2 linked regions of the Homo sapiens genome follow. The protein of the gene in region 1 purifies or fractionates together with the protein of each later gene. This does not show direct contact. Each region holds a gene or a part of one and is shown on either strand. Other genes may lie near its edges.

The links. The genes of interacting proteins can lie anywhere in the genome.
Region 2: the proteins of ZNF23 (region 1) and POLR1F purify together in Homo sapiens (affinity purification with mass spectrometry; one large-scale study listed by BioGRID and IntAct). This does not show direct contact.

What each region holds. Positions count from the first base shown.
Region 1 is NC_000016.10:71,455,024-71,460,141, reverse strand, and holds part of ZNF23 (zinc finger protein 23), read left to right. Parts: intron 1-3,313; 5' UTR 3,314-3,345; coding exon 3,346-3,378; exon of another isoform or gene 3,379-3,448; intron 3,449-4,020; exon of another isoform or gene 4,021-4,049; coding exon of another isoform or gene 4,050-4,070; intron 4,071-5,118. UniProt on the Homo sapiens protein: May be involved in transcriptional regulation. May have a role in embryonic development.
Region 2 is NC_000007.14:19,699,038-19,703,345, forward strand, and holds part of POLR1F (DNA-directed RNA polymerase I subunit RPA43), read right to left. Parts: intron 1,244-4,308; coding exon 1,035-1,243; intron 1-1,034. UniProt on the Homo sapiens protein: Component of RNA polymerase I (Pol I), a DNA-dependent RNA polymerase which synthesizes ribosomal RNA precursors using the four ribonucleoside triphosphates as substrates.

The DNA.
Region 1 (5,118 bases):
CTACTGCATTTAAACGATGAGACTTTTCTTGGTAGGTTCTCATATACTTTCTAGGATGTTTACGTTCTTGCAAACACCTGCTCCTCTGCTGAGCCCCATGGTCTTGACTCACTGCCCGGTCTTCAAGGTTCAGGCAGCAGGTATACACCCTTGACTAGCTGAGCGGGGTAGCTATCACACTACATATGTAATTGGTAGAGTTGGTTTATTATCTAAAAATGGAGTTGTATATTCTCCCATCACAGAATAAGTTTTCTCTTTAAACACCAGATAATATATTTTTTTAAATGGACATGAGTCACAAAAAAACCCTGAAAAATGTGTAAAGTAGAAGTTAGTAGATTGGGTTATATAACCATCATGCAATAAAGCCAGAACTTATAAACAGAAGAAATTAGCAACAGTAAACTATCCTAAGCAATTACTAGGTCAGAGACAAAACAGAATTGCTGACTGACTATAAAACAGTAATTAAAACATGAAATATAAAAACCTCTGGAATGTGGCAAATAGTGTATCCCAAGGAAAATTTGTGGCCTTATAGGCTTTAATTGCCAAATAGGAAGAATGAAAATAAATGAATAAGTCATGCAACCTCAAGAAGGTGGGAAAAAAGCCTTTTGTAGTCTAAGCTTCCCCAAAAGCAGAACGTGGAACAAAGATTTGTATGTAGGAATTTATTTAGGAATATGGTCACAGGGGCAGAGTGAAAGACAAGGGGAGTGAAACAGAGATGGGAGAACTGGTACAAGGATGCATTGGTATGCTCGGCCCTCAACAGGCTCTGCCTTGCAGGGCGTTTGAGGAGCCTTGGAGTCTTAAGGCTGCCCCGCTGGGGGATCGACGGGGAAAACATTTATCCATTGGTTTCTCTCCCCTATTGGTCAAGGGGGTCCCACAGGTGTTAATGCCTCTGCACTTCAGGGCCCAGCAGGTGTCCACAGGTGTCCCACATAGGACACCAGAGAAGCCCCAGGGCAGGAACCAGGCATAGGTGATGTAGGTCCTTGTGAAGGTTCTGGTAGCTTGCAGCTTCACAAAGCTGACTAACCTCTGTAGAACTGGACTGAGGATGGGATAAGAGGATTGGAGTGGTGCTTACACTGCCCCTTACAGAGCTGAAGGAACAAACTAAGAGCAGAATTAGTGAATTTAAAACAAATAGAAGAAAGTAGTGTTGCTCAACTAGAAAAGCTGGTTCTTTGAAAATAAAAGGAAACCACATTAAAATAAGTAAAACACTGCTCAGCCTAACTGTATTAGTCTGCTTGGGCTGCCATAACAAAATACCATAGACTGGGTGGCTTCACCAACATACTTATTTCTCACAGTCCTGGAGACTGGAAGTCCAGGATCAAGGTGCCAGCTGATTTTGGCTCCTGCCAGGGTTGCCTTCCTGGCTTATAGATAGTAGCCCTCTCGTTGTGTCCTCACATGGGGGAGGCGGGGAGTGAGTGGTTTCGTGGGCTCTGGGTCTCTCCTTCTTCTTGTAAAGGCATCACCCCTATTGGACCTCATTTAACCTTAGGACCTTTAGTCCCACCCTTAGGACCTCATTTATCCTTGTAACCTCCTGACAGGCCCCGTCTCCATATACAGTCACATTGGAGGCTAGAGCTTCAACATATGAATTTGGCAGGGGCATAAATGTTTAGTCTCTAACTCTAACCCTGGGAAAAAGGTCTAGAAAGCACATATATTCAAAAGAAGAAGTGGGAAAAGCAAACTAGCTCTGGATATGGAGGAAATGGAAAGAATCATGAACCAGTATTTTCTGCAACTCTGTACTAGTAAAGTTGAAATCCTGGAAGAAATGGATGATATTTTAGGAAAATGTAATTTCAAGACTGACTTTAGGGGCAGTAAAAGTCAGAAAATCACTAGTCCATATGTTTTTGAATACAGTGAACAAGAGGCTCTGGGTCACGGGACTGGCTGCTACAGTGATCTCCTCTCTCAGGAGCTGACGCAGAAGTGTAGGCCTTGGCTCATTCACTATCAGAAGACTGGAAAGTTTGGGAAACAGCCTGGTTCCTAACTTCCAGCTCAGCTTCCTAAGGACAGCCTGTGCTGTCCTTAGGAGGACTGACCTCTCAAGACCTCTCCAGAGGTGTTAGGATTCTTGAGGACATTCAGAGCTCTGAGGAAGTGGGGCAGGATACTGGGGGGCAGCTGCCTTCTCCAGGCGCTGCCTCCCTGGGGTCTGACTCCCCAGGCTTGTGTACTGGGGCTGCAGCCCAGCCAGTCCAGCTTCTCCTGCTGTGATACTGAAGATAATGCTTGTGTTGAGAAAGAGAAATAAGTCAAAGATCTTGGTATTGTCCTATTTCTTGAAATGAATTGTGGATACATGACTCTTTGCTTTATTTTTTAGGCTCTGCATACATTTTATTTTATTTTTATTTTTTATTTTTTTGAGATAGCGTCTCACTCTCATCACCCAGGCTGGAGTGCAGTGGTGTGATACTGGCTCACTGCAGCCTTGACCTCCCGGGCTCAAGTGATCCTCCTACCTCAGACTCCCGAATAGCTGGGACCACAGGCATGTGTCACCACCTCTGGCTAATTTTTTTTTTTTTGAGACGGAGTCTTGCTCTGTTGCCCAGGCTGGAGTGCAGTGGCGCAATCTTGGCTCACTGCAAGCTCTGCCTCCCGGGTTCACACCATTCTCCTGCCTCTGCCACCCGAGTAGCTGGGACTACAGGCGCCCGCCAGCACGCCCGGCTAATTTTTATATTTTTAGTAGAGACGGGGTTTCACCGTGTTAGCCAGGATGGTCTTGATCTCCTGACCTTGTGATCCACCCGCCCTGGCCTCCCAAAGTGCTGGGATTACAGGCTTGAGCCACCGCGCCCAGCCTAATTTTTGTATTTTTTATAGAGACAGGGTTTTGCCATGTGTCCAGGCTGGTCTCGAACTCCTGAGCTCAAGTGATCCACCCGCCTTGGCCTCTCAAACTGTTGGGATTATAGGCACGAGCCACCGTGCCCAGCAGGTTTTATATGCACTCTTCTTCTTCTTTTTATTTTTAATTTTTATTTGTTTATTTTTAAATTTTATATATATACTCTTCAGTGTGTGTGATATGTATCAGAATTGTAAAGTCCTAGGGTTCCTGGCAGTGAATTTCAGTGTCATAGCCTGGAGTCCTAGGCACTGAGCCAGTGAACAGATCATTCCCTTCTTGGGCAGCTCCTGTTCGCACTCCTATTTGGATGCAAGCTGCCTGTGTCTTGCATTTTCTGTGAGGGGCTATGTTGCTCTGGTTGGGGTGGCTTGCCTCACACTTGTCTCTCTTTGTGTTTCTCCTTAGCTCCAGCCCTTCTCTGAGACGGGGACCAGGGGATGGCAGCCATGCACCTGACAGCCTGGCCCCAGGTGAGCTGTGGGGTCCTTCAGCTCTTCCTCTGGGCAGTTTCAGATTGAAAAACATTGAGAAGGGGAGCTGGTGAGCCTCGGGATGACAGCTGCTTCCACCTGCTGGACTGGAACTTGTGGGAAAGAGGTGTTGTGCAGGGAGGGCGGCAGAGACCAGGACAGTAGCGAGTGGAGGAAGCGGGAGAGTGAGCAGGAGAGCAGGAGGGTGGTGGTCTTCTGCACACTGAGGGTCTCTGCTCCTCTCTACAGGAGCACCCCCAGCATAGGGCTCTGGGTGAATGGGGACGTGGAAACCGCCCCTGTGGGATGTACTGTGCAGGGGTGTCAGTGGAGCACAGTCGCAGAGGATTGGACTATCTGTGGTGGGGATGTAGAGAAGAGGAATAGCAGGACCTGATCAGAGAAGGATGGCCGTGCCTCTAATTCAGGGGTAAGGGAAGGTCACAGGGAGTGGAGTCAAGGGAGGGGGAAGACAGTCACATGGGACGGAATGTCTCATTGTGCTTGTGAAGCTTTCAAAGTTTAGGATGCAGACTTTAGGTCTCTGAGAAGAGCTTTCCACCCTGTCCTGCAGGAAAGAGGTGTTGTGCGGGGAACCTGCAGAACATAAACCTGCAAACCAAATTTTCCATACATTTTCAGGGACTTCACGGATCCCCTGAAGCTCATCCATGGACTTCCATGGACTACAGGTTGGGAACAGTCCACAGTCACACCAGTTGTATCTTTGGAGGCTTACTATGCTCCAGGAGCCATACTAAGCCCTTTGTATGGTCGTTTGGTCCTGACAACCGCCTCTGTGATAAGTGCTGTGTTGTACTCTTTCCACCTAAAAAGAAAAGGCAAAAGGGGAGTAGAGTAACTTGCCCAGGATCACAGAGTTATTGTGTGATTCAGAACTGCTTAGCCATAAGACAGCTGTGGAACCAGTGATGTTAACTTGGTCAGATTTGTGATGTGTATGGAATAATTTGTAAGGAAGATTCAAAAGCACGGTGACCACTTCACAAAGAAGAATCCCACTGGTCCCGTGACATGGGCTTCATCAAGGAAAGCCATCATTAAAGAGGGATCCAATTCAAGTAATGCTTAAGATAGAAAAATCATGGCCGGGTGTGGTGGCTCACACCTGTAATCCCAGCACTTTGCGAGGCTGAGGTGGTTGGATCACTTGAGGTCAGGAGTTCAAGATCAGCCCAGCCAACATGGTGAAACCCTGTCTCTGCTAAAAATAGAAAAATTAGCTGGGTTTTATGGTGCATGCCTATAGTCCCAGCTACTCAGGAGGCTGAGGCAGGAGAATTGCTTGAGCCCGGGAGGCAGAGGGTGCAGTGAGCCGAGGTCATGCCACTGCGCTTCAGCCTGGGTGACAGAGCGAGACTCCAACTCAAAGAAAAAAAAAAATCTTTCGGACATAGAGACTCAAAGGATTTGTGGTGATAAGGAAGGTGGGAAGTCAAGAACAATCCCCAGGTTTCTGGCTGAGGTTTCTTGTGAGGGTGATTCTGACCCCAGCTGAAGTGTAAGTTCAGAAGGAAGTGCCAACTTACCAGGGTGGTGGTGGCGGCACACAGTGAAGACATTATATTTTGTGCAGAGAAGTTACTTGTTGAAGGTCACACAAAGAAGGCTCACAGAAACACCTAAAGGTTGGACTAGAATTGCTGATGGGTGGAGGTCAGTAAATTCCAGGAAGACACATCCTAGCAGAGAGGAGTTGAGCAGCAGATCCCTGCCAGT
Region 2 (4,308 bases), on another chromosome or scaffold:
TCCAAGTTTTGGGTTGTTTCAGAAAAATTTGGTCACTGAACATTAAACACCACAATACCTAGGCTTATTAACCAAACCACTGACATCTAATAGAAAATATGATCTGGTATTTATCAAAGCAATGGAGTTTCCAGTCTACTATTTTAATCTTGTTTCAAATAATAGTCCATTGTTCTACTTAGCTGATACTAAGATAGTATTACTTTAACATTGTGAATTATTTTACACCACTAAAATAAAACATGGATCGATGAAGTAGCTTTCTCTCCAGAACTTCAGTCTTATACAGTAGCACTAGGCACATGTACCTAATCACTACCAAAAACATAACTTTAGAAATTCAGTTCCTCAGTCAGACTTAGTCATATTTCAATGCTCAATAGTGAGGCTGCTGTACTATGTATATAAACTGTATTTCTGTCATTACAGAAATTGAACAGCTGTTCCAGAACTTCAACCCATACTCTTGTAACTTTAAGGCAAAATACAGAAAAAATTATTAGCAATAGCAGCATTTTAAGAGTTGTCTCTCTCCTTCTTCCTTTAAACTTGGCTCCCATGGAATCAAGCTCAAGATCAGAGTTAATTCTTATAATAATTTCTATACAGAATAATACAGAAATTAAAATATCTGGCACAGAAGACAATAATCAACACAATTTTTTGTGTGTAAAAACAAAGCAGGCCAATAGTTAGGAAGGTAATTGTGCTTTCAGTAGTTTCAAGTTTAGAGGTCAACTTTAAAAAAAAAGTTAACAACAAAATAGAAAATACTCAGCAAAATTGAACTATTAAATATTAAAATACAGACCAGTTAGCTAGTCTGTGTTTCAGAATATTTATTTGATGCACTGTTACAGATTACTTAAGAGTATTGTTTATATTGACTTTATGGTTTGAAAGCATGAATATTCCTATAAACAGGTATTTTTAGAGAGGCTTATTCTCTTTAAAATTAAAATAAAATTCTCTTTAAAATTCAGAATTAAATAGAAATTAAGTACCTAGTGATAATTACGTAATGATAAACTAACCTTGTGATATTTAGTTTTCCCCGAATGCAGAATACTCCAGCAGCATCTGAGTCTAAACGAAATACTTCAAATTCTAGTTCATCACCCATGTTTATCTCCATGGTTTGCCACTGCTCAGCTGACAACTGCTCAGGTTTAGGAATGGAGGCATTGAAACACCCATGTACTAAACAGCCAATGTGGCTAGAAGACACTTTATTAACTATACCCTGGGAAGAAGAAGGAAGAAAGAGCGTAACATAAAGAACACATCCACAAAGTTAAAAGGTGAACCAAACTTTACAAGCTTCAAATAATCTTCAAAGAACAAACATCAAATTAATGGTCTAATTTAATATGGAAAAAGTTTACCTCAATTAAAACTTACCACATGTCATGCCAAAACATCACTTTAGAATACCACTGGGTTTTGAGAAAGCTCAAACTTTATTATATAAGTAATTGCACATTAACTGTCTAACTGGGCACATTAACTTTCTAACTGGATAAACTAACCTGCCCCCGCCACCCTGTCCAAGAAAAAAAACCATCTCAACTCCCCACTGCAGGATTCCTTAGGGAGGACAGTATTACTCTTTAGCTACATTGAAACCAAGCAAACCCCATATAACTTCTAAAAAGACCTCATATGCGTTTTATAACTGGGATCCATGTTACGTTTCTGTAAATAGACCAAATTTCAAAGCTTAAAAATGCATTCTTTAATTATTTAATTTAGCATGATGCAAGCATTCCATTAGAAGACAGCTTACCCTTTAAATGTAAATATTGACCATGACTATTTTTTGGCTAAATCACGAAAGTATTATTAGAAGCTTTAAAACTAAAACAAAAGTATGTGCTATATGATTTTAAGATGAGACTTTGCATAAAACTTATTTTTCTTCTCAGGGTCAATATATACAAAGCATATAAATGAGACTCAGAAATATTAAAAATTCACATTTTCTGAATTATGAAACTGCAAATAATGCCGATGTGTATACAATGCTGTTTAACATCAGCAACCCTTTACACATGTGACAGAATAAAACTTCCCTATCTGGTATGATCAGAAGTCTAGTGTTCCCACTGGTAGTTTCCAGATGGTCTAGATAAACAAACTGGTACAGCTATAAAATAAAAGATTATTCAGTAATAAAGATAAATAAGTTCTCACCATAAAAAGACATAGCGAAACCTTAAATGCATATTGCTAAGTGAAAGAAGTCAATTTGAAAAGGATACATACTCTATTCTTCTTCTTTAAAAAGGCAAAACTACGGAAACAGTAAAAAGATCAGTGGTTGCCAGGGATTACAGGGAACGGAGGGAAGAAGGGAGAAATGAATAGGTGGAGCACAAGCGGTTTTTAGGAGAGGATAACTATTCCGTATCATACTATAATGGAAGATAAGTTGTTGGGATTCACTCAGGATAGTGGCAGAAATATTAAAGGGAAATATTAGGGAAAGTTATAGGGAATAGTCACAAACCTTTTTGGAAGGCCAAAAGGTTACATAGCTTGTAATAGCTGAACAGGCCGAAGACAGCCGGTTCTTACCTTAGAGCATTAAGTTACAGAGTAAATACTAGGGACAATAGAGGCTTCCCCAGTTAAGTCTGTTTACCCTACCTCTGTTAACTAACCTTTAAGTCAGATGGCCTCTGGGGGGGCAGGGATATTGCCCCCAGTGATATTTACTTTAAACCTCGGTACCTGAGCTTTAATCATTCATAGAACTACTCACTTAACCATGTTAATTATCCAAAAGTGTGTGGACTCAGAGCTTCTGTTGTTAATTGTATACGAAATAAATGCCTGGAGTGTGAACTACTCAGGGCCAGCGGCAGTGACAAACCTCTCTCGGTGTGTAGGCAGTCGGACACTCAGCAGTACTGGCAAAGCAATATCTGTGTGTCAGTGTACGTTTCATTCATCCATCTTTTAGGTCAAGGTCTGCAGGCAGACCCCCGCAGCTAATGCCCTCTTGTGAGGAGCAATACCTCAATAAATGCCATGACACATTTGTGGAAACTCATAGAATGTACAACACAAAGACTGAACTCTAATGTAAACTACAGACTTTACTTGATAATAATGTATCAATATTGGCACAAAAATGGTAACAAATGCACCATACTAATGCAAGTTAATGTTGATAATAGGGGAAAGGGGGTGGTTATATGGGAACTCTATACTCTCCATTCAATTTTTCTGTAAACCTAAAACTGCTGTTAAAAATATGTCAATTTCAGAAAATCAATGAAAGAAAAGGTTTTTTAATATATGAATCCAGAACAACGGGAAAGCTACATGAAGGAGAGAGTGGATCTCAAGGCCTACCTCACACTACACACAAAAATTATTTGAGAATGATCACAGACTTAAATGGAAAAGCTAAAACTAAAAGCTTGTAGAAGTCGACAGAACAGTATCTGCACAACTTTTCGGCAGACAAATTTCTTTGATAGGGTCCAGAAAGCAATAGTCATAAACATATAAAATGATAAATTGGACCTCATCAAAATTAAAAGTAACTGTTCATCAAATAATACCATTACAAGTTAACAGACAAGTCACAGATTGGAAGAAAATATTCAAAATACTTATCTGAAAAGAATTCATTTTAAGACTAAAAAGAACTGCTATAAGTCAATAATAAAAATACAAAAACCCAATTAAAAATGGGCAAAATACTTGAACAGGCCCTTCTTACTGAAATATATGAAAAATTGCTTATGAGGGAAACGGAAATGCAAATTAAAACCATAATGAGATACTACTATATGCCCATCAGTACAATTAAAGGACAATAGCAAATGTTAATAACGATACAGAGTAAATGAAGTGTTGAATGGGAAATCAGTCTGACAATGGTTTTATATAAATACCCTGTGAACTAGCTCTTCTGCTTCTAGTTATTTACTTAAGAGAAATGAAAATGTATGTTTTCATTCATATGTCTGAAAATATATGTTTTCAATAGCTTTATTCATAAAAGCCCCAGCCTGGAATCAATCCATCAATGAAGACAGATAATTATATTGTGATATAGTCATATAACTGAATACCATGAGCAATAAAAAGGAACAAACTACCAATACACACAACAGCATGGATGAAACTCAAAAACATGCTGATCAAAAGGCGGCAGATTTTAAGAATGTATAATGAATAATTCCATTAATATGGAACTATAGAATAAGCAAAACCAACTTATGATAAAATCAGAAGAGTAATTATATCTGCAATAAAGAGAAGGAATTGGGCCAGGAAAGGGCATGAAGATCC